Homo sapiens: one gene and its partners. The protein of the gene in region 2 interacts with the protein of the main gene of each other region in a pairwise test. Each region holds a gene or a part of one and is shown on either strand. Other genes may lie near its edges. The genes, in order: IKZF3, PRPF18, FXR1, TRIM23, ZNF526, HSF2BP and HMBOX1.

Region 1 (3,500 bases), on a different chromosome or scaffold from region 2:
TTAAAAAAAAAAACAAGCAAGGAAATAAAATTTAAAAAACAAGGAAATAAAGCCATGGATCAAATGAAAAACAGTAATAATAATGGTAAAAGTGGCTAAGCTCTAAACTAAACAAAAAAAATCATCCTCTCTCAATGTAGGTGGTAATTCCAATCCTAGATAAATTTGAGTGTACTAAAACCATGCAAAAATGCTTCATGTTTGAACATAAAATGGAGTTACAGTCTAGAAGTCATTAGACAGCAAAAAATGTCACTACGTTTCAGAAAAGGAAGGTATTCCTCTTAGAATGAGGGATGGCTTCCTAAAGGAGATGGCATTTAGGATAGACCATAATGGATGAGTGAGGATTTCAGTTGGCATGATTGTGGTGCTATTAACAGTGTTGGGAAGTCAGGAGAAGTTGGTTTGGATTGGAGAGAAAATTAGTTCATTTTTGGACTTGTTGAGTTGGAAGAACAGCATTAGAAAAATGGGGAGTGAGGGAAAGCAATGCCTGAACAGGGAACACTAAGCAGCAGTCCAGAGTCACATTACAGGACAGAAGATACCACTGGAAAGGTACTGAAGCTGTGTTGTGGAGTATCTTAAATGTCCAACCAAAAAATATTTAAAATGGTGTCTGAGTAGGAGAATAACTTTATGTTTTAGGAAGATCATTCTGGCAGCAATCCTCAAAACAGATTAAAAGAGGCAAGTCTAGATACAGGGTTACTAGTAGGAAAAACATGTAACGGTCTAAATCAGTCATTTTCAAAATGTGTTTTATGGAATCCAGGGTTGCAGAGGGCTGCCACAGGGCTGATCTATGGCAAGAGGAAGATAGGCTTAGCAGTGGTCTCTTGCTCCTTCTCCAATCTCTCATTTGGAACATTACACTTGCATCTGATCCCACATAAGATTTTGGTATAAACGGTGTCCTGTTGCAAAAAAAACAAGTTTTTGTCTTGTTTTTGTGTCTAATCCTAACTCTTGTTGAAATGTGAGACTAACAGTGAAATACCTCAAGGTCATCGTGTAATCATCAAGTCTCATTGTGTAGAGTAGTAGTTATAAAATCTATAAGCACTACATGAATTCCTAATATCAACTTGTTCAGTCATTATTTGTCCTATTATATAGATTGGATCTCCCTCCCCAAATTGGATTACGTGTAAAAATGTTCTAGTTGTTTAGGTCTGGGGCAACTAAGTCCATACTAGGTCATTGATGTTTGCAATGGATATCTATAGAGTCCTTTGAGAATCTCCAAATTCCTTTTATTGAGATGTGCATACTATGCTATTGGCTTGGCACACTTAGAAGCTGTTACTTGTTTGTGCATTCTGGTCTCCTAGCCCTACTAATTCAAATCTGAAAAATTAGTCGGGCAGTATTGGCACATGCCTGTAATCCCAGCTACTCAGGAGGCTGAGGCAGGAGTGCTTCACCTTATTATTTCAGAACAGTTTTTAATTAAACTACTCCCAGAAACTTGAGAAAGGATGATAAGTAATCTTTGCTTCAAAGTTGAATCACAAAAATATTTAACATTCATTTTATTTCATTCTGAACATAAAAATCAAACAAGAAATGCCCCAACTTTATTATAAGTATTTAAGATTTATAATATACGATGATGATGTAACATGTATTATAATATACAATGTATATTGTATATGTACAATATAACATGTATATTGTATATGTACAATATAACATGTATATTGTATATGTACAATATAACATGTATATTGTATATGTACAATATAACATGTATATTGTATATGTACAATATAACATGTATATTGTATATGTACAATATAACATGTATATAATAACTCTTTTAAATGCTTGTAAGGTTACATGTTACATGTCTTTGTTAGTGAGTAGTTGATTACTATACTGTGACAGAAGCATGTCCCAAGCAGCTGAGCCTTAGCCTTTACAGGCACTTAATAAAGTACAGGGAATAAGACAGTTAGTAATATTCTTTTTTATTTATTTATTTTTTTGAGACGGAGTCTGGCTCTGTCACCCAGGTTGGAGTGCAGTGGTGCAATCTCCACTCACTGCAACCTCGGCCTCGCAGGTTCAAGCAATTCTCCTGCCTTGCTGGTGGTGGCACGTGCCACCACACCCAGCTAATTTTCATATTTTTAGTAGAGATAAGGTTTCACCATGTTGGCCAGCTGGTCACAAACTGTTAATAATATTCTTACTTAAATAACTTTTACAGCGTGGTGGCTCATGCCTGTAATCCCAACACTTTGGGATGCCAAGGCGGGCGGATCATCTGAGATCAGGAGTTCGAGATCAGCCTGGCCAACATGGTGAAATACTGTCTCTACTAAAAATACAAAAATTAGCCGGGCGTGGTAGCGGGAGCCTGTAATCCCAGCTGCTCGGGAGGCTGAGGCAGGAGAATTGCTTGAACCTGGGAGGCAGAGGTTGCAATGAGCCAAGATTGCACCACTGCACTCCAGCCTGGGCAACAAGAGCGAGACTCCATCTCAAAATAATAATAATAATAATAATAATTTTACATGAGAAAATATGCACAGGAGAAAAAAGACCAGCAGCACCATGATTTTACTCATCATGTTTATAAAATTTTAATATTTGGAAAAAAAAGCCTCATTTTGAGGTCAGAGGATAAATTTATACACTGATCATCTTCAATACTTTAAAGTCTGGAATTTTATGTGAAATTCAAATGAAATTTAAATCAAGTTAGCCCGTGAAGCACCTTTGTGGAACTGCCTACACTGTATGTAAGCATATAAATCAACTATTAGTGATTTTTAGCAGTCTAGGTCAAGGGATTTCTTAACTAAGAGATAGAGGTAGATGACAGCAAAAATGACTAGTTGTTATATATTATAAAAATTAGTTACTTCCAGTTTTCATACTGGACAATATTTTCCATCAGTTATGATGTAATTCCATATCCATAAAAATGTTATAGGTTTGTGAGAGTGATCTTTTTCTCATATCCACAAACTCCTAGAGGAAATTGTTCTGATGTGCCAAATATTCTGGTAAATTAATAGTCTCTCTAATATACATTACTTCTTAAATGAACTGATGTTGCTGTGATAGAGTATTCAAATTAAGTGATGTTCAACAATTTTAAGAATCAAAACATCTATTGTGAAGAAAAGGTTTATAGTGGAAACTGCAGTGCTTCACTGAAATAAAAAATGTACCAAAATTATTAAATAAAGCCAAAAGTTAGAAGGCATTGTATTTTGTGGGGGGCATGGATTAGAAAAATGGCCGTATTCACGCATTGGATTTAGCCAATACTTCAATCTCTTCTACCAAACCTTTAACAGTACCTTTAACAAATTAGCCAGCAAAATTTACCAATTTCAATGTCTCTATTTTCCTTCCCCCCTTTACTATAAAAGCTGGGCAAGAAAAGAGTCAAATGATCAAACACACAGGCAACTCATTCATTAATTTATTAAACAAATATGACTACAGGCCTACTATGTGCTGGGGACTGGGTTGGGTAC
Region 2 (3,500 bases):
TGTGGACATCCATTCTGTTTCACTGAAAAAACCTCCTTGGGGTCATAAATAATGTCTAAGATACAAATCCAAAGAGACTTCTCTGACTGATCTCATCCAGTCTTCGATTTAACTGCTCATTCCTTCCTTCCTTCAGTAACTTTCTCCTCTTAGCTGACAGATTCTTCTTATGTCTTCCTCACTTACTGGTTTGCTTAGATTTTCTATTTCTTGTATTTTTTTGTACTTTTTAGCCATTTACTTCACTTAGATTTTCCAATGTATTAGAACTAGTATACAGTTTTCCTTACTAATTTTATTTTCCAATGTCTCCCATGTTGGTTCCTGCCATTCCTTCCATTGGTCCTTCATTTCAGAATGTTTTGTATAATGTGGGGTAGGGGTTGTTGCTTATTATTTCCGTATGGATATCCAGTTGTTCAGCATCATTTACTGAAAATATCTTTCCTTCCATTTGGTTTTAGTGTATTTGTCAAAAATCAATAATTGTGTAAGGGTGGCTCCGTTCTGGGTGCTCTGTTATACTCTAGTGGTGTTAGCTGTTGCTCTTTATGCCAGCGCTATGCTGTTTTGATTATTGTAGCATTGTTACTGCAGCACAGCATAGTATCTTGCATATAGGAAAGATGCAGTAAATACTGGAAGGAAAAAAAGCTAAAATTCTGCACATAGCTCATCCTCATAACTACAACTAGTAAAACTACTAATTACTCCCCATTGAGTTTCTAGAGCAGCCTGGTTTTCCACACGAGGTTTTGCATTAAATGAAAACTCACCAATTCTAGGCTCCAAAACACTGGTGTTCTAGCAATGCAGACACATTTACCTCAGGGTGGTTACACCAGGCAGGGCACTTTAGGACAGGTGGTAAGAGGATATCTTAGTCACTTCTCTGCAATTTGAGAAAGAGGCACTCACAAGCTAAGTACTGATTATTTCAACTATCACAGATTAACCACAAAAAGCTGGGACACCACTTGAAATGACCAAAGATGAGGTGGCTCTTCTTTCTGCAAGAGCAACACCACACAGACAACTGTTTTCCAGCTACAGATGCGGTAATGACAACAATCTACTGATCCCTGACCCGTGTTTTCTAAAAAATTAAAACAAAGGGACTTGCTCTTCCCCATCTTGTAAGATGGTGGGTGAAAAAGTTGAGAAGCCGGATACTAAAGAGAAGAAACCCAAAGCCAAGAAGGCTGAGGCTGGTGACAAGGTGAAAAAGGGTCACCTCAAGGCTAAGAAGCCCAAGAAGGGGAAGCCCCATTGCAGCACAACCCTGTCCTTGTCAGAGGAATTGGCAGGTATTCCCGATGTGCTATGTATTCCAGAAAAGCTGTGTATAAGAGGAAGTACTCAGCCGCTAAGTACGAGGTTGAAAAGAAAAAGAAGGTTCTTGCAACTGTTACAAAACCAGTTGGTGGTGACAAGAATGGTAGTACCCAGGTGGTTAAACTTCATAAAATGCCTAGATATTTTCCTACTGAAGATGTGCCTCAAAAGCTGTTGAGCCATGGCAAAAAAAAAAAAAAACCCTCAGTTGACACGTGAGAAAACTGCGAACCAGCATTACCCCGGGGAACGTTCTGATCATCCTCACTGGATTCCACAGAGGCAAGAGGGCGGTCTTCCTGAAGCACCTGGCTAGTGGCTTGTTACTTGTGACTGGACCTCTGGTCCTCAATCGAGTTCCTCTATGAAGAAAACACCAGAAATCTGTCATTGCCACCTCAACCAAAATTGTTATCAGCGATGTAAAAATCCCAAAACATCCCACTGATGCTTATTCAAGCAGCAGCAGCTGCAGAAGCCCAGACACCAGGAAGCTGAGATCTTCAGCACAGAAAAAGATAAATACAAGATTACAGAGCAGCACAAGATTGATCAGAAAGCTGTGGAGTCACAAATTTTACCAAAAATCAAAGCTATTCCTAAGCTCCAGGACTACCTGCGATCTGTGTTTGCCCCGACTCATGGAATTTATCCTCACAAATTGGTGTTCTACATTTCTTAAGAAGAACCTAATTAAATAACTGATAACAAAAAAGGAGGACTGAATAAAACATGATAAAATCATTTGTGGTTGTAAGAATTATTTCATAAAACTTTTTTCACATACATATCAGATCAATATATAAAAATGTATTGCTATGAACGGGGCAGTGAAAAAGTCTGTAAGTTACTGACAGACACTGTGATGCAGAAAGATGAAAAATATAAAGCAACTATTCTGCATGAAATGATAGAGCTGCAGATCTAAAGACTGTCTTCCCATGGATACAACAGAAAAGACGCCTAGTTGTGTATGTTCCCTTACATCATGCAAGAGCACTCACCCTCAAGTTGGTCTAAGACTTGAGATCTATCCCGGCTGGCCACAGGAATATGAGAACATCGTGTAACCCTCTAAGCCTCAATTTCATCATCCATGAAAACAGCATTGCCTTGTGCACTAATTAACCGTTGTAAAGCTCAAATCAGATAGCATATAGCACTTTGAAAAATATAAATCATGTTAGTCTAATAATTTTCCAGTGCTTTGTTACATTAGCCCTATCAAAACTAGTTCTATGTTTGTAAGGTGAATAAATATCCATTCTATCTGTACAGGTTAACAGATCAGGCTCTGAAGTAGGAACAGACCAGGGTTCAAATCCAGGCTCTATCTCTTGCTAGCTGCATAATCCTATAGTCATGTAACTTCTCTTAGCTTCCAGTTTCCTCATCTGTAAATGGGAACAATGGCAACTTGTTGTACAAGTTAGAAAACACATATTGCATGATGCCTAACATTACTGCTAATATAAACTATGAATGTCAGTATTTTTTTTTTTTTTTTTTGAGATGGAGTCTCGCTCTGTCGCCCAGGCTGCAGTGCAGTGGCACAATATCAGCTCACTGCAAGCCCCGCCTCCCGGGTTCACGCCATTCTCCTGCCTCAGCCTCCTGAGTAGCTGGGACTACAGGCACCTGCCACCATGCCCAGCTAATATATATATATATATATATTTTTTTTTTTTGTATTTTCAGTAGAGATGGGGTTTCACCGTGTTAGCCAGGATGGTCTCAATCTCGTGATCTGCCCACCCCAGGCTCCCAAAGTGCTGGGATTACAGGCGTGAGCCACCGCGCCCGGCCGAATGTCAGTATTTTAATTCCCATTTCATGTACGCCCTTTGTTGGTCTGAACTGCTCTGTGATTGAAAAAATCAATCTTATCTTCTGGCTGGAATTATGTGATAATTCAATCAACTACCAAATTAAAAAATGAAAGACACCCAGGAAAAGTTTATATATTATAAATTATAAATGACCCTGAAGAATCTAAAGTTTTTTTTTTAATGATCATTTTTGTAGATTGGTGCATTTCAATGACGAAGAACATGATTATGCAAATATTCATGTTGTGAACCTTGAGGGTGGGCTGAATATTTTGTGATTCACTTTTCCCTTTAAAGCACTTAGATTTCAACACCCTGGCCCTTCCTAACATCCAC
Region 3 (3,500 bases), on a different chromosome or scaffold from region 2:
AGACGCCCAGGAGGAAGAGGCAGAAGTGTTTCAGGGGGTCGAGGTCGTGGTGGACCACGTGGTGGCAAATCCTCCATCAGTTCTGGTAGTCTTTTCTATACTCTGTCAGCATCCATTATTTGTAAACAGTTTAATTTTACAAAAGTTAATTCATCTCCCAGGGCCACCCATTTTTGGAAGTTTCTCTTGCTACTCATTGTCTTAGAGAAAGTAGTGGACCATATAGCAGTATCAGGAAAAGCCCTCGTAGAGTGTTTCTCAGTGAAGGTTTACTTAGAATATACTGGTCAGAACTTTAGTTGGCAGCTTTTCTTTATATGATGAGGGTCAGATGTTTCTCTCTTCAGGTTTTGGAGGCTTATTTAATTAGAATTTTTTTTGTTTTCCCTAGAATTTTGGGGTTATGTTTTTTTGTTTGCCAGACAGACCCAGAGATTTCTAATGCACAGAGAGATGTCAGTACTTTTCTATACTTAATATTGAAAACGAAGTGAAGAGCATTCTTAGCTACACTATGTAGTACTTTGGGAACAGGGAAAAATTGTGGAATTAACTAAGTTTTTTAATTGTTGGAGGAACTGTGCTGTAAAGAGGAGTGTTTGGATGACTAAAGATTTGAGGGTGTAGGAAACGTTTTACTTAATTACTTCTGTCTTCTAAAATTTTTTTATGCTTTACATTAAGTTGTAGGAGTTTCCAGAATATCCTTGGTTACCATAACGGGCTAGGGAGTTAATTGCCAGGGATAGATACATAGACTATATTAAGGATATAACTTTAACATATCATTATGGTATACCACGTTAAGAAACCCGCACCTTCCTTAATGTTATACCCATGAAAACTTATGTAGTATTTTAATATTATAGAAAGTGTGTGTAGATACATTAAATATAGATGCCAACTGTGCTTACAAATTACAAAAACTGGAACAAATCAGGGCAAAAATTAGGAACTTGTTCTTTGTTTGTTTAGATTTTCTCCCTTTCCACAGTAATACTCTTTGAGCCTTAAGTTTAGTTTACAGGCTTTCAGGGTAATAGTTTTTATATTTTAGTACACTTTGTACAGTTACCAAGGTGTTTAAAATTACAGTATACTGAATTGCAAAATAAATGTACTTGACCTAGTGTTTTATGATTAATGGATACGCTTAGTGTCTTTTGCAAAGATGCTTAGCTTGCTAGCTGTTACCAAAGGAATCTTAGGAAAAATCGGAATTAGGTGAATTTCTTCTATAAATTTGATTGTTGGAGGTAATAAATGCACATAGGTAAGATGGGTATTTTTCTTATGAATTGTACCTTACAGTTTTTCCTTTTCCACCTTCACATCACCTTCCATAATGTTTCTAAAGATGGAGTACTAGTCAGCATTCGTTTCAACATTTTCCTTTCATAACCAGTTAGAAGTTCAACCTTATTTAATTGGCTGCTTTGTTTCAACTTGTCTTGATTGCTTCAGTTCAGTTACGGATTTCTATTATGTCATGGAATGCAGGTATTGAATATTATTTGGGAAACAGTCCATCAACATCAACACAACAAAGCTGCAGTCATTTTGAACTCAGTTAAGGGGATGAAAGCTCGCTCTTATAATTATTTCTTAACAGCTGAATATTTGTTTCTTTTCATTTTTGTTTTTCTAGTCTCTGGGCAGGATTACCTTGAAATGTGAATGCAAGAATTAGCATTTAATACACTATTTTCTAATGTATATTTTAAAAACAAGGCACAGGAAATGTTAGGAAGCCAAGATGTCTGCTTACTTTCTGCTTTAATTTTTCATCACCACTTAAAGTTTTATCATATTTAATTATCTTTGTTATTTTCCAGGTAAATAATATTGAAAACATTTTATTTGAAGACAGTGCATTTTTATTGGGGGAGACTGAAGTTTATTTGTCATTGATATAGTTCAATATAGATCAAACATTCATAATTGCAGTACTCTTAAACGAATATTTCTTGCCTCTGACATGAATATAGTGCTCAAAGATCCAGACAGCAATCCATACAGCTTACTTGATAATACAGAATCAGATCAGACTGCAGACACTGATGCCAGCGAATCTCATCACAGTACTAACCGTCGTAGGCGGTCTCGTAGACGAAGGACTGATGAAGATGCTGTTCTGATGGATGGAATGACTGAATCTGATACAGCTTCAGTTAATGAAAATGGGCTAGGTATGTAAGCACTTAGGGAAGAGAAATATATATATATATATATATATATATATATATATATATAATTGTAAACTATTGTTAGTATATGAAGCTTTTTTCAAAGAAATATGCAATTCACAAATTGACTTTTTCTTAGTGTTTACTTTGAACAAGGTAGATAGCTTTTTGTCTATCTTAAATGTTTAGTTCTCAGATTTGTTATAGCCAAATTATTTGAAACTTGGAGGGTTAAAGTGCCCTTTGATGCCATTAAATCAGTACAAATATTCAGCTGGCAAGGTACTTAGTGCTTTTATTGTCCCCAAGCTAAAATCAGGCTTTCATCTTGCCTCTTTTAAAATAATTATAAATGACACTGGTAAAGGTACATATATCAAGAGTAGGCATTAATTTTCAAGGGCTAAAATGTCATTAACTTCGGTATAAACCAAACTGTACTAGAGAGGAAGACTGTGTCCCTGAATGATGGCAGTTTAAGTCTGAGTTTTACTGTGAGTTAAAACCCTCTGAATTTCCAGATGATAATTCCATTTTTAATCCATTTGGAATGCTGAAAGCTACAAAAATGTATTTCCTGTCAGTAAACATTTGTTGTTTTATTTTTGTGTTTAATTAAAAGTTTATTTTTCCCCTTTAAATCTTTGAAGGAAAGAAGGTTTTTTTGTTTTTTTGTTTGTTTTTGTCAGAATAGTTCATGGTAAACTTTGCAATTACAGATGATAGTGAAAAAAAACCCCAGCGACGCAATCGTAGCCGCAGGCGTCGCTTCAGGGGTCAGGCAGAAGATAGACAGCCAGGTAACTTGAGTGGACCTGTGGACACCATCAGGTCACAAGCATGAAAAAAATGTCTATGTCTGCTTTCTAAATATATTATACTTACATGTACACATGTGTGCATATACATTCAAAATTTGCATTGCATAAATTGTTTATTCAACTAATAAGACTACTACTATTAAGAAAATGCATTCTTCCTTCACAGTGTGTTAGTAACTTGTCTAATTGAACTAATGTTGTGTCCTAATTGTTTACATGGAAATACTGTTGAGAAGACCATTTTGTTCACTTGGCAGTTTCTTCACACTTGAGATGGGGCCTGCCATCCGAGGGACTGTGTTGTAGATTGTGATCAAGGTTGATTGGCAAAACTGGGCAGCTTTTGCATGGTGCCTGCTTACTATATCTGAATTCAGCACCTCATTTTTGTGGGAGTTGTAATACCCACAATTAAAAAAAAAGTATAAAAGAGAAAAATATTTGAAGGTGTCTTTAACCTAATGCGAGGAATGCATGTTGTTTTTGTTTGTTT
Region 4 (3,500 bases), on a different chromosome or scaffold from region 2:
GGAATAGAGGATTGGTGATCCTGGCTGAGGGTGTGGGGTGGGGGGTAGTTGTGGAACAGAGCTGGAAGGTACATGGATCCCAAGGTCCTAAGGACCTTGGTGGAGGTTTAGAGGGCTAGGAGCTGTTACAGGTATACATTCACCACGTAGGAGTAGGAATGGGGTTGATTAGGCTTCAGTAGATATTGCTGCATGTAGATAATTTGATAAGTCACAGTTATAAACTGGGGGTTGTCTGTGTTTGATATGTCATTCATTGTAAATACAAATATAGTATAAAAGTAACTTTTTTTTTAAAACAGGTTTTAACGTGGAAACTGTAGAATATAAAAATCTAAAATTCACTATTTGGGATGTAGGTGGAAAACACAAATTAAGACCATTGTGGAAACATTATTACCTCAATACTCAAGGTGAGAGTTAAAAATGACATTTAATTTTTCACATTTTTAGGATGACAGTTTTCAGTGTACTGATTTAACTAGCAAAGCTGATACTTATGATTAAGTCGTTGACTGTATACTTAAGTACCTGTGGCCAGTTTCTTAACTTGTAAAAAATGAAAGTAGAAAGATTAGGATATATACTTTTAGTTTATTCCTGATATACCATTATTACAGAATAAAAACCATACGTAGCTTAGATATGTAGTCAGTTAAGAGTACTCTTGCTTCTCTTAACAGAGAGTGTATATTACCAGTATTATATGGGTGTGACTGCTGGTAGCGTAGTGGTATAGAGTTGAATTTATGTTGTATGATTCTGCTGAATTCAGTTAAACTCAACATTTATCCCATTATAATCTCACTATAGCCCCACTCCCACATTTCTTTCACAAATAGTTATTACCTGCAGAAGAACTTACAGTAGCTTGCTTTTGACCAAACCGTATTATATCATATCTATACTCTACATAGGTTTTAGTCACATTTGGGTCTTACTCTACACTTCTGCCTCATAGACCCCAACATAATGCTTACGCTCATGCCGCTTATTCTGTATGTTATTCTGCTTTCCACCAAGATGAGAGACTGAATAATTATTTTTACTTTGGGATTTTTGATATTATTATGAGCCATAATTAATAGAAAAAATGTATTTTTTTTTTGAGACAGAATCTTGCTTTGTTGCCCAGGCAGGAGTACAGTGGCATGATTGCATTTCATGGTCACCTCTGTCTCCTGGGCTCAAGCAATCTTCCCACCTTAACTTCCCAAGTAGTTAGGACTAGGTATATGCCACCACATTCAGCTAATTTTTTTTTTTTTTTTTTTTTGAGATCGAGTCTTGCTCTGTCGCCCAGGATGGAGTGCAGTGGTGCGATCTCGGCTCACTGCAAGCTCCGCCTCCCAGGTTCACGCCATTCTCCTGCCTCAGCCTCCTGAGTAGCTGGGACTACAGGTGCCCACCACCATGCCTGGCTAATTTTTTTGTATTTTTAGTAGAGACGGGGTTTCACCATGTTAGCCAGGATGGTCTCCATCTCCTGACCTCGTGATCCGCCCGTCTTGGCCTCCCAAAGTGCTGGGATTAGAGGCACGAGCCACCGCGCCCGGCCACATTCAGCTAATTTTTAATTTTTTTTTAATAGAGATAAGGTCTCACTATATTGCCCAGGGGTCTCGAACTCCTGGGCTCAAGTGATCCTCTCACCTCAGCCTCCCAAAGTGCTGGGATTATAGGTGTGAGCCACTGTGCCCTACAAAAATGAAATTTTGAATATGAGGAATGGTTGAAAGTCTGGAGATAGTTAACTTAGACATAATACTTTGGAGAAATAAAAATGGTGATGGTTTTTATCTTTTAGTCTTTTATTCAAAGACTAAATATTAGAAAAGTAGTATTCGAAGAACAAGTAGCATCCATAGGTAGAGGATCATGAGGCATATTTTGAAATTCGTTATGTAAAAAGTTATTTGATATACAGACCAATTTGCATTTGATAGAGCAAGTGTTGTAAATCCTTTCCTAGATGGGGAAACTAAACCTGAGAAGTTATGTAAACTACTTGAAATCATACTGTTAATTATTTGTAGGTGCCCCTGCCATACTAGGCACCCTCTGTGTGAAAATAATGATGGTAGACAAACTCTAACCATAACATAATAATGATATCATTAAATATTTGGTTCATTTACTGAACTTTAGCAAGTGACTATTTTTGTTTTTTTTATTTTTTTTTGGGTAGCTGTTGTGTTTGTTGTAGATAGCAGTCATAGAGACAGAATTAGTGAAGCACACAGCGAACTTGCAAAGTTGTTAACGGAAAAAGAACTCCGAGATGCTCTGCTCCTGATTTTTGCTAACAAACAGGTAATGCATTTTTATATTGGAATATTTATTTTAGTAGTTTTGTGCATGTCAAAAGGCAACTGGAAATATTTCAGAAGACAATCAGTTCAATAGATATTTATAGTTTCTTCTGTGTATTTTGAGTACAATCTATGTGAAAATGCTGTGCTGGGTACCTGGGAGTATACAAAATAGAAATAAGGTAGTTAATGCTCACCAGAAACTCCTGTGTATGCATATGAACACATAAGAGATCTGAATACGAAGAAGACTGATAAGTAACTTAAGTAACACAGTGTTACGGGAATTAGGAAAGTAGTTCTAAATGTGGCATGTTGTAAGATTGTAAAATGTAGAATTTGAGTTGAAATTATGCATGAGGCTGAGTCAGTATGTGAAAGGAAGAACATTATAGACAGAGAAGATAATAGCATGAATGTTTTTAGTTTAGGGAACATCAAGCAGATCTATATGTCAGGTCTCAGTAGAGGATGAAGAGAATTTAGAATAACAGACAAGGCCATGCTGTAAAGGTCTGACAGTGCTAGACTGAGAAATTTAGGTTTTATTCTATGAGCAAGGAGGAGTCATCAAAATGTTGGATTAGTGGGTAATAAGATCATATCAGTGTTTCAATACTATAATTCTAGGGGTAGAATGAATCAGGGCAAAGGACTGGAGACAGGGAGATGCAGTAAATTGCTTAAATAATTCAAGTGAGCATTAACAAGAGCCTGAATTAGAGGAATAGAAAGGCGGAGGCAGATGGAAAAGACTTTGAGGCAGAACTGGTGACTGAATGGGGAGGATGAAGGACTGGGAGTAGCTGAAGATTCCTAGACCTTGAGCCTTTCTAGGAGGATGAGATGCTTTTAAGTAGAGGCAGAAGGAGAGTAGAAGTGGAGCAGAGGAGATGTCATGGGAGGGGAAGAGTAGGATGAAGAATAAAGAATTTTCCCCTTAATAAAAAAGGCAAACTATTAAGAACTGGTATATTTAAGACATGCAAATAAGTCAGTGAAATACCATTTTCTGCTCATCAGATAGTTAAAGATGAAAGTGTTTTATAATCCTCAGACTTATATACAACTGTTACTATTATTATTTTGAGACTGAGTCTTGCTCTGTCACCAGGCTGGAGTGCAGTGGCACAACCTCTGCTCACTGCAACCTCCCCCTCCTAGGTTCAAGCGATTCTTCTGCCTCAG
Region 5 (2,695 bases), on a different chromosome or scaffold from region 2:
TCTTGGCCAACATGGTGAAACCCCATCTCTACTAAAAATACAAAAATTGGCCGGGCGTGGTGGCTCATGCCTGTAATCCCAGCACTTTGGGACGCCCAGGCGGGCAGATCACGAGGTCAGGAGATTGAGATTGTCCTGGCTAACACGGTGAAACCCTGTCTCTACTAAAAATACAAAAAATTAGCCGGGCGTGGTTGCAGGCGCCTGTAGTCCCAGCTACTCGGGAGGCTGAGCCAGGAGAATGGCCTGAACCTGGGAGGCAGAGCTTGCAGTGAGCAGAGATTGCACCACTGCACTCCAGCCTGGGCGACAGAGCGAGCCTCCATCTCAACAATAACAACAAAAAAATACAAAAATTAGCTGGGCATGGTGGCGCACACTTGTAGTCCCAGCTACTCGGGAGGCTGAGACAGGAGAATCACTTGAACCTAGGAGGTGGAGGTTGTAGTGAGCCGAGATTGCGCCACTGTACTCTAGCCTGGCAACAGAGCAAGAGTCCATCTCAAAAAAAAAAAAAAAAAAAAAAAGAGGCCGGGCTGTTGGCCGGGGTGGTGGCTCACATCTGTAATCCCAGCACTTTGGGAGGCCAAGGCGGGTGGATCACCTGAGGTCAGGAGTTCAAGACCAGCCTGGCCAACATGGTGAAACCTTGTCTCTACTAAAATATATATATATATATATATATATATATACAAAAATTAGCCAGGCATGGTGGCACACCCCTGTAGTCCCGGCCACTCAGGAGGCTGAGGCACGAGAATAGCTTGAACCCAGGAGCGAGAGGTTGCAGTGAGCCAAGATTGTGCCACTGCACTCCAGCTTGGGTGACAGACCAAGTCTCTGTCTCAGAAGAAAAAAAAAAAAAAAAAAGAGGCTGGGCTGAGTGGTGTTTCTCTCCTGCAGGCTGCCGTGGGGTGTGTGTAGGCTTCAGAGACATGGGATCACGGAAGACTGAAGCAGAAACAGTGGATTAAGACTTCCTGAGCGATAGCTGGTGAGTAGTGGGATGTGCAAGAGAATTCCACCTCCCCTTGGTTTCCTGCTGTCTCACTGGCTCCTGCCCCTCTTTCTCCAGGCACTGCCTTCCCCACAATGGCAGAGGTGGTGGCTGAGGTGGCCGAGATGCCAACACAGATGTCACCAGGGGCAGTGGAGATGTCAACACCTATGTCGGCAGAGATGATGGAGATGTCAACAGAAGTGACTGAGATGACACCTGGGGAGGCCCTTGCCTCATCCCTCTTCTTCCAGCATCACCAGTTCATGTGCTCTGAGTGTGGCAGCCTCTATAACACACTGGAGGAAGTCCTCTCACACCAGGAGCAGCACATGCTTGCTGTCTCAGAGGAGGAGGCACTGACCACACAGAATGTTGGCCTGGAGCCGGAGCTGGTGCCGGGTGCTGAGGGGCCCTTCCAGTGTGGTGAATGCAGCCAGCTCATCCTCTCCCCTGGGGAGCTCCTGGCCCACCAGGATGCCCACCTCCGAGAGTCTGCAAACCAGATCCAATACCAGTGCTGGGACTGCCAGGAGCTGTTCCCCTCGCCCGAGCTGTGGGTGGCTCATCGAAAGGCCCAGCACCTTTCTGCTACGGTAGCTGAGCCACCAGTGCCACCTCCTTTGCCTCCCCCAACACCACTGCCTCCACCTTCTCCCCCATCCGAAGTCAAGATGGAGCCCTATGAGTGTCCTGAGTGCTCTACCCTCTGCGCCACCCCTGAGGAGTTCTTGGAGCATCAGGGCACCCACTTTGACTCCCTAGAGAAAGAGGAGCGCAATGGGTTGGAGGAGGAGGAAGAGGACGATGAGGAGGATGAAGAAGATGATGAAGAGATGGAGGATGAGGAGGCCATGGCAGAGGTCGGTGATGATGCTGTGGGAGGTGACGAGTCCACAGCTGGCTGGGCTCAGGGCTGCGGGGACTGTCCCCAGCACCAGCCCTCAGCAGGGGCTCGCCGGCAACACCGGCGGACGGCTCACAGCCCGGCATCTGCCACCCACCCCTTCCACTGCAGCCAGTGTCAGCGCAGTTTCAGCTCCGCCAACCGGCTGCAGGCTCATGGGCGGGCCCATGTTGGTGGCACACATGAGTGTACAACCTGCTCCAAGGTCTTCAAGAAAGCAGCATCGCTTGAGCAGCACTTGCGGCTGCATCGCGGGGAAGCCCGCTACCTCTGTGTAGACTGTGGCCGCGGCTTTGGCACAGAACTCACGTTGGTGGCTCACCGGCGGGCCCACACTGCCAACCCATTGCATCGCTGTCGTTGCGGCAAGACGTTCAGCAACATGACCAAGTTCCTCTACCACCGGCGCACTCACGCCGGCAAAAGCGGGGCACCTCCCACAGGAGCAACAGCTCCCCCAGCTCCAGCGGAGCCCACCCCTCCACCACCACCCCCTGCCCCACCTGCCCAGCTGCCCTGCCCACAGTGCTCCAAGTCCTTTGCCTCAGCTTCCCGGCTGTCCCGGCACCGGCGTGCAGTACACGGGCCCCCTGAACGGCGTCACCGCTGTGGGGTTTGTGGCAAGGGCTTCAAGAAGCTGATCCACGTGCGCAACCACCTGCGGACACACACGGGTGAGAGGCCCTTCCAGTGCCACTCATGTGGCAAGACCTTTGCTTCTTTGGCCAACCTCAGCCGCCACCAGCTGACCCATACGGGTGCACGTCCCTACCAATGCCTGGACTGTGGCA
Region 6 (3,500 bases), on a different chromosome or scaffold from region 2:
TATGTCCATCCTTATAGCAATACCACAATGGTTCTATTTCGGTAGGTTTATAGTTAGTTTTTTCCTCTAAATCAGGCACTGTTAGTCTTCTAACATTGTTCTTCTTTTTCAGACAATTTTTTAGATATTCTGTCTTGAATTTCCATAGAAATTTTAGAATCAGATTATCACTTTGTACAGAAGTCTGCTGAGATTTTGATAGGGATTGTGTTGAATCTGTAGATCAGTTTGGGAAGAATTGACATCCTGCCAATTTTTGAACATGGTGTATCTCTTTATTTAGCTCTACTTTCTCTCAGTAATGCTTTGTAGTTTTCATTGTATAGGTCTTGCACCTTAAAAAATTATTCTTATTTTTGATGTTACTGGGAATGCTATGATTTTCTTTGAGGTTTGTTTGTTTTTTTTTTGATATTATTATACTATGTGTGGAACCCTGCGTTGGGGAATATCCTCCTGCAACTACCAAATGTGACTGTAGTGAGCAAAGTCCTTCCTGGTTCTTCTCAGTAGTCTTTTTGTGGTCGTGCAGAAGAACCACCATATCCTGACTAATTGAGATGCAGACAGCTTAAGTTGTGAGAAAAGCTAGAATTCCAAAAGGAAGTGCTGTGACATAGTTTTCTTCATGTGTCACCATGACTTGTGTTCAGCTACGTACACTGAAAGGATGAATCTAGGAGTCCAGATTGTTGCTATAATGAAGACATTAAAAACCCGGAGCTGACAGATCACATGATGCAGTATTAGCATGTGCCAGAGGCTCAGTGGCCATTTTTTTCTTAAATACATGTGTGCATATACGTATGAATGTGTATGAATCTCTGTGTGCCAAACGCATTGTCTCCAGGTAACTATGAGTGGGCCACCCTAATCCAAGTTATGAGGTCAACAGTTTTGATTTGTGGCTCCAAAGCTCCCTTTTTCCTCCAGGGGGTGAAAAGCCCCCTCTACTTTGTCTTGTATTTATCTCTCTAAAAGAAAATCTACAGCATTTAATATACTTTAATTTTGTGGTTTATGTAACTAATTACATTTGGTATAAATGAATTTAACTGGGGTTTTATATTTTTCAGTTTTTGTCTTATTAAATCAGGAAATGCTATCACCTTTTAAGGGAATTTCAGGTACCTGGTGCTGGTGGTTGGAGAGGACAGGAAGCCCCCCATCACTCTAGCAGTACACTCAAGGTGAATCCTCGAAGTGTGCTTGTGTTGTCAGGAGGGCCATCAGGACGGCCATTCCCTGTGTTTCCCTTGTGAAGAGTGCCATGGTGGAGACTTGCCCAGCTACAGGTCACCTCAGACACTGCTGGTGGGAGAGTAGGAAACTCTTCCTAGCCTCCATCTTCTTCTTAGACTGGCACTGGCTTGCTGCACCAGGGCATGAATAGGACTCCCAGCCTTCACACTTCTTTTTGCCCCTCCTCCCATCTTTCCTACCTGGTCTTAGGTTTTAGGTTTTCTTTCCCTGTTTAGCTTCACAGATTGTATTTTATATTTACTGGCACCTTTGGCAATATTCTCATGAGGAGTTAAGGATACGTTTATACAGGATGAGTTTTTCTAAAGTACTTGTTTTTTTACAAATCCTGATGTCCAAGTGCCTTTTATTTGGTGTCTGCCTCTGGCAGATGGCGTTTTTTCAATGGAGTGAGCCATTTGGAGGAGGCAGTCTCCTGTCTTAGAAATGTTGCTTTCTGGGTAAATTGCTTTGTGAGGTTGTTTTTGTTCAGAAGCCTCGGTTGGTGCTGGTTCTGGGTATAGTTACTTGGGGCTTGAGATATTTCATGTAGTTACTTAAAGCAGATGAATTCAGCTCTGTGGGTTTATCAACCATAATGTGGTAGTATGTTCTTTCCTCAGATATTTCTCAAATATTTTTGCCTTTGAAATTTCTTTTGTAGATACAGATTATGGTTCTCTTAGGACTAGCTTTCATTTGCAACTATTTTCTATAATTATACATGCATTTCTTTAATAAATATCTTTGTGAAAGAGGAAATGTAATAAAGATATATCAAGGTTGAATGCTATTATTTATTTTTCAATTTTGTTTTGCTTTTAGGAGAAACTGGCTCTTCGACAGCAGTTGAATGAAGCGAAGCAGCAACTCCTGCAGCAGGCAGAGTATTGTACAGAAATGGGAGCAGCAGCGTGTACCCTCTTGTGGGGTGTCTCCAGCAGTGAGGAAGTCGTCAAGGCCATTTTGGGAGGAGTAAGTATGGTCAGTGGGCTCTCCAGATATTGTTGATTACTGCTTGTGTAAATTAGAGCATATAGCTTATTAAGGCATTTAAAGACTAAGTCCATATCTTTCCATTTTCTTTTGTTCACTCATCAGCTAGTTATTGAATACTTATCGTATATGGTTCATTGTAACCTGATGCAAAGGGAATGAAATAAGATCCCTTCTCTCCAGGAGACCTTGTGGTATATGTGGACATATTACCACTTCAGTATTAATACTTTACATGTGTTTAAGAAGATCAAAAGTGCTTTTATATATATTATCTCATGGTTAATATAGTATTTATTGAATATTGTGTTATCTAACATATATACATGTATGTAGATGTGTGTGTGTGTTTATACATACACACACACACACATACATATAGATGCAGAACCTTGAGCAACATGGAGGTTGGAGGCGCTGACCCCCTGCACAGTCGAAAAGCCACATAGAACTTTTGACTCTCTCTACTGTTGGCTGGAAGCCTTACTGACAACATAAATCGTTGATTAACACATTTTTTGTATGTTAGATCATCATGAAGGTCTTCCCCCTCATCATCTTCAAATTGAGTAGGCTGAAGAGGAGGAGGAAGAGGAGTGGTTGGGTTGGCATTGCTGTCTAAAGGGTGGTAGAGGTGGAGGAGGTGGAAGGGGAGGCTGGAGCAGCAGACACACTTGGTGTAACTTTTACTGAAGAAAATTCTTGTGTAAGTGGACCTGTGCAGTTCAAACCCTTGTTTTCAAGGTTCAACTGTGTGTGTGTGTGGCAGCGTGTGTGTGTGAGCATGTGTGTTTGAGCATGTGCATGTGTGTGTGACTGTGTGTGTGTGTGGGAGCATGTGTGTGTGGGGGAGTGTGTGTGTGTGGGGGGGGAGCGTGTGTGTGTGGGAGCGTGTGTGTATGGGAGCATGTGTGTGTGGGGGAGTGTGTGTGTGGGAGCGTGTGTGTGTATGTGGGAGCCTGTGTGTGTGTGTGGGGGGAGCGTGTGTGTGGGGGAGTGTGTGTGTGTGTGTGTGAGCCTGTGTATGTGGGATCGTATGTGTGTTTGTGTGGGGGAGCATGTGTGTGTGTGGGGGAGCGTGTGTGTGTGAGACTGTGTGAGTGTGTGTGTGGGAGCGTGTGTGTGTTTGGGGGAGCGTGTGTGTGGGGAGAGCGTGTGTGTGTGTGGGAGCGTGTGTATGTGGGAGCGTGTGTGGGGGGGGAGCGTGTGTGTGTGTGGGAGCATGTGTGTGTATGTGGGAGCCTGTGTGTGTGGGAGTGTGT
Region 7 (3,500 bases), on a different chromosome or scaffold from region 2:
AAGAAAGTTTAAGTGGAATTTTTCATAAAAACTTTCAGGATGTGCCAATGCAACACTTAATGACAGAGATACACTCTGAGAAACGCACCATTAGGCAATTTCATTGTTGAGCGAACACCATAGAGTGTACTTACACAAGCCTAGGTGGTATAGCCTATTGCTCCTAGGCTACAAACCTGTACAGCATGTTACTGTATTAAACATTGTAGGCAACTGTAACGCACTGGAAAGTATCTGTGTTTCTAAACCTTGGAAAAAGTACAGTTAAAATATGATATAATCTTATGGGACCACTGTCATATATTCAGTCCGTTTTTGACTGAAACATCATTATGTACTACATGACTGTATTACATAAGGCAAAGAGTGAAATTACTGATCCAATAATTGGTTATCTTTCTCCTTAGCTATATTGACAAAACAACAGAACTTATGAAGAGGAGGAGAATCATTCAATCTTTGCAGTAAGAGTTCTGTACCTTGATTTTGGTGGTGATTATGCAATCTACACACCTGTGATAAAATGGCATAGAACTATACACACACATTGTACTGATGTCAATTTCCTGGTTTTAATATTGTATTAAAGTTATGTAGGATGTAACCAATAGGGGAAACTGGGGAAAAGTTACAGTGCCCTCTCTATTTTTGCAGCTTCCTGTAAACTATAATATGCCAAAAGCATCCTAAGGACTTGCCAGCACTTCAAGGGCTCACAATAATCCTATGAAGTAGGTACTATTTTTATCCCCAGTCTATTGATGGGGAAGCTGAGGTACAGACATTTTAAATGATTTGCCCAAGGTCACATAGCTAGTAACTGGCAAAAACCAGGATTTGGACACAGGTGGTATGACTCTCAATTTTTGATTTATGTCAAAGTCTGAGGAGCCACTAAAGGATTACAGGCAAAGTATGGTTGACAATCAAATTCACATTTTATTTTGGCAAGATAACTCCTACTAGGAGCTTAGAATGACTAATGAAAAAAATTCAAACAAGATTAGTTAAGAGACTGATGCAATAAACCAGAAAGGATGAAGATATGAAATAAGAGAACATTAATAGAAAGAAATGTATACAAAATACGAAACCAACTTGACTTCACGATTGGATGAAGAGTGAGAACTTCATCCAATTTCAAGGCTTGACTGACTACACACAAGCCAAGGATTTCATGTTTTAACAATACAATACATTATCAAAATTTTTTTTTTTTTGAGACTGAGTCTCACTCTGTTGCCCAGGCTGGAGTGCAGCGGCGCAATCTCAGCTCACTACAACCTCCACCTCCCAGGTTCAAGCGATTCTCCTGCCTCAGCCTCCCGAGTAGCTGGGATTACAGGCATGCACCACCATACCCAGCTAATTTTTGTCTTTTCAGTAGAGACAAGGTTTCGCCATGTTGGCCAGACTGGTCTCGAATTCCTGACCTTAGGTGATCTGCCCACCTCAGCCTCCCAAAGTGTTGGGATGACAGGCATGAGCCACCATGCCTGGCCTATATTATCAAAATCTTAAAGCAGAACAATTCAGTCTTAAGTCATCCCTGTTTCAGCAGTACCCACAGCATTTCACTTTCTTGCTATAAAAATTGTGACTAGATACAAATTAAAGTTACTGCCACTTGGCAACTCCACGCTACTTAATACGTATACAGTAATGAGGCTACTAATATTTTCAATACACCACATGTGGACCATCTCTGGACATAAGATAAACAAAGAAGCAGCCAGAGAGAATACATACTCAGCATGTGGAATTTAGTCAACATTTTTATCACAATCCACACTCTAAATTTAAGAAAAACCTAAGTGCCCTTTGACTGGATTAGAATCATTTTACCACTTAACAGGAAGGAGTCTAGTGTCACCCATTTTAAGGGTGAAAAAGTTAAAATAATTGATCACTTCAAAGCTAAAATCAGACTATTGTTACTGTTTTTTTTTTTTGCAAATGTTAAAAAAAAACTATAGCCTAAGAATCTGTCAAATATTGCATTAAGATTACACTAATCACTGGAAAAACTTAATGTAACTTCAACTTTATTACCACTATAAGGGTAAAAACCATGCTAAAGCCAGGGCCCTTCCAGGAGCTAAATGCTCTTGGAAAGTGTCCAAAACAATGTTATAGTAAATTTCCAACTTGTTTCATCTAAGGTCAAGGAAAACAAATTATCTAAAGCACTGGATTATGTTTGAATACACTGCAACTAAAAGTTTACATCAAATAATCCCATGGAAAAATCTTTACTCTGCGCCTATGATGGGCCCTAAATCCAGTAAGGGCAATGTGGGGGAATAGCTGCACCTAGGAATCCATGCTACGTCTTACTTACTAATATTTTGAGAAAACTTTCAATATCAATAGCTTCCATTTTGAGAGAACTGTATTTTAACAAAATCTGTGAAAATAATGGTTTGGAATGATAATGAAAATCTCCTCAGCTTCTATAATGTGGACAACATGTGCTGGTTACTCTTTGGTTTCTAGCTTCAGTCAAAGTTCAAGGTCTTCTGCTATTTGTGGCTCAGATTCTTTCTTATGGGAGGCATGTCTGATAGATATACACCAATTTCATAAATAAATAAATAAACATAAAAGTATTTTATGTATGAGTGTATTGTGGGTGTACATATATGGCACTCTAGACAAGCCATGCTTTTCACTCACAACAATGCTTTAATAAATTACAGTTCTACTACAGTGGGAAGTAAAAGCCAACTGTTAACAGAAAAATCTAGCCAAAGAATAGCAAAGTGAGCTACAAAATTAATTCCAGAAGCCAAAGAACTAAATAAAGCTGGTTCACAAAACAAACAAAACCAACACATTTTCAATGAGCACTATTCGGTTTATCTATAAATGTTCATGTATTTAAAAAGTTGAGTGGTATGCCAACTTTCACTTATGACAACATTCTACATAAATACCTGATTCCCAAGAGAAATAATTCAGGTTTAAAGAGCTGTATACAAAAATAAGAGAAGCAAGAGCTACAATGAAATGAACAGAACTAAATTGCACGGGAGCCCTAAATGTGGGATGTGCTGAATACAGTGTACAGGAGACTCAAAATACACAAATTAAGCCTAAATATTCCCAATGTATTCAATATCTATGAAACAAGCAATAGAATTCCAATCAACACTTGCCACAAAAATTGCCATAAGCTGGTTGCTATTTTTTAAATGATGTAACAATGACAGATTTGTTGCCACATATTTTGTAACTTAGGAACACTGAGCTATTAAGTTTCTATTAGCGATGTTTTAACTGAGGATTTGGGCTAGAAGACTGAAATCTGTTTGTACAGCAGTGAAAACGAAGCCTCACTAAAGGCATTCAACTTCCAGCTAAAGGCTCCTTTCCTTGATGCGTATTTGTGACCATACATAGTGTTCACTAAATGCAGTAAACTAAACTAGCAACAGATTAGTTAAAAGCAGCTTAGATTTTCAACTTCCCATAATACAGGCAACATCTTTAGAAGCAAT

What was found.
Region 1: the proteins of PRPF18 (region 2) and IKZF3 interact in binary tests that used the Homo sapiens proteins (3 or more experiments, as listed by UniProt).
Region 3: the proteins of PRPF18 (region 2) and FXR1 interact in binary tests that used the Homo sapiens proteins (3 or more experiments, as listed by UniProt).
Region 4: the proteins of PRPF18 (region 2) and TRIM23 interact in binary tests that used the Homo sapiens proteins (3 or more experiments, as listed by UniProt).
Region 5: the proteins of PRPF18 (region 2) and ZNF526 interact in binary tests that used the Homo sapiens proteins (3 or more experiments, as listed by UniProt).
Region 6: the proteins of PRPF18 (region 2) and HSF2BP interact in binary tests that used the Homo sapiens proteins (3 or more experiments, as listed by UniProt).
Region 7: the proteins of PRPF18 (region 2) and HMBOX1 interact in binary tests that used the Homo sapiens proteins (3 or more experiments, as listed by UniProt).

The regions. Positions count from the first base shown.
Region 1 is NC_000017.11:39,854,313-39,857,812, forward strand, and holds part of IKZF3 (zinc finger protein Aiolos), read right to left. Parts: intron 1-3,500. UniProt on the Homo sapiens protein: Transcription factor that plays an important role in the regulation of lymphocyte differentiation. Plays an essential role in regulation of B-cell differentiation, proliferation and maturation to an effector state.
Region 2 is NC_000010.11:13,589,965-13,593,464, reverse strand, and holds part of PRPF18 (pre-mRNA-splicing factor 18), read right to left. Parts: intron 1,698-3,500; exon of another isoform or gene 1,598-1,697; coding exon of another isoform or gene 1,577-1,597; intron 1-1,576.
Region 3 is NC_000003.12:180,968,170-180,971,669, forward strand, and holds part of FXR1 (RNA-binding protein FXR1), read left to right. Parts: coding exon 1-85; intron 86-1,988; coding exon 1,989-2,189; intron 2,190-2,905; coding exon of another isoform or gene 2,906-2,986; intron 2,987-3,500. UniProt on the Homo sapiens protein: mRNA-binding protein that acts as a regulator of mRNAs translation and/or stability, and which is required for various processes, such as neurogenesis, muscle development and spermatogenesis.
Region 4 is NC_000005.10:65,593,334-65,596,833, reverse strand, and holds part of TRIM23 (E3 ubiquitin-protein ligase TRIM23), read left to right. Parts: intron 1-302; coding exon 303-413; intron 414-2,188; coding exon 2,189-2,313; intron 2,314-3,500.
Region 5 is NC_000019.10:42,223,312-42,226,006, forward strand, and holds part of ZNF526 (zinc finger protein 526), read left to right. Parts: intron 1-903; 5' UTR 904-994; intron 995-1,075; 5' UTR 1,076-1,092; coding exon 1,093-2,695. UniProt on the Homo sapiens protein: May be involved in transcriptional regulation.
Region 6 is NC_000021.9:43,631,989-43,635,488, reverse strand, and holds part of HSF2BP (heat shock factor 2-binding protein), read left to right. Parts: intron 1-2,067; coding exon 2,068-2,217; coding exon of another isoform or gene 2,218-2,226; intron 2,227-3,500. UniProt on the Homo sapiens protein: Meiotic recombination factor component of recombination bridges involved in meiotic double-strand break repair.
Region 7 is NC_000008.11:28,893,395-28,896,894, reverse strand, and holds part of HMBOX1 (homeobox-containing protein 1), read right to left. Parts: intron 1-3,500. UniProt on the Homo sapiens protein: Binds directly to 5'-TTAGGG-3' repeats in telomeric DNA. Associates with the telomerase complex at sites of active telomere processing and positively regulates telomere elongation.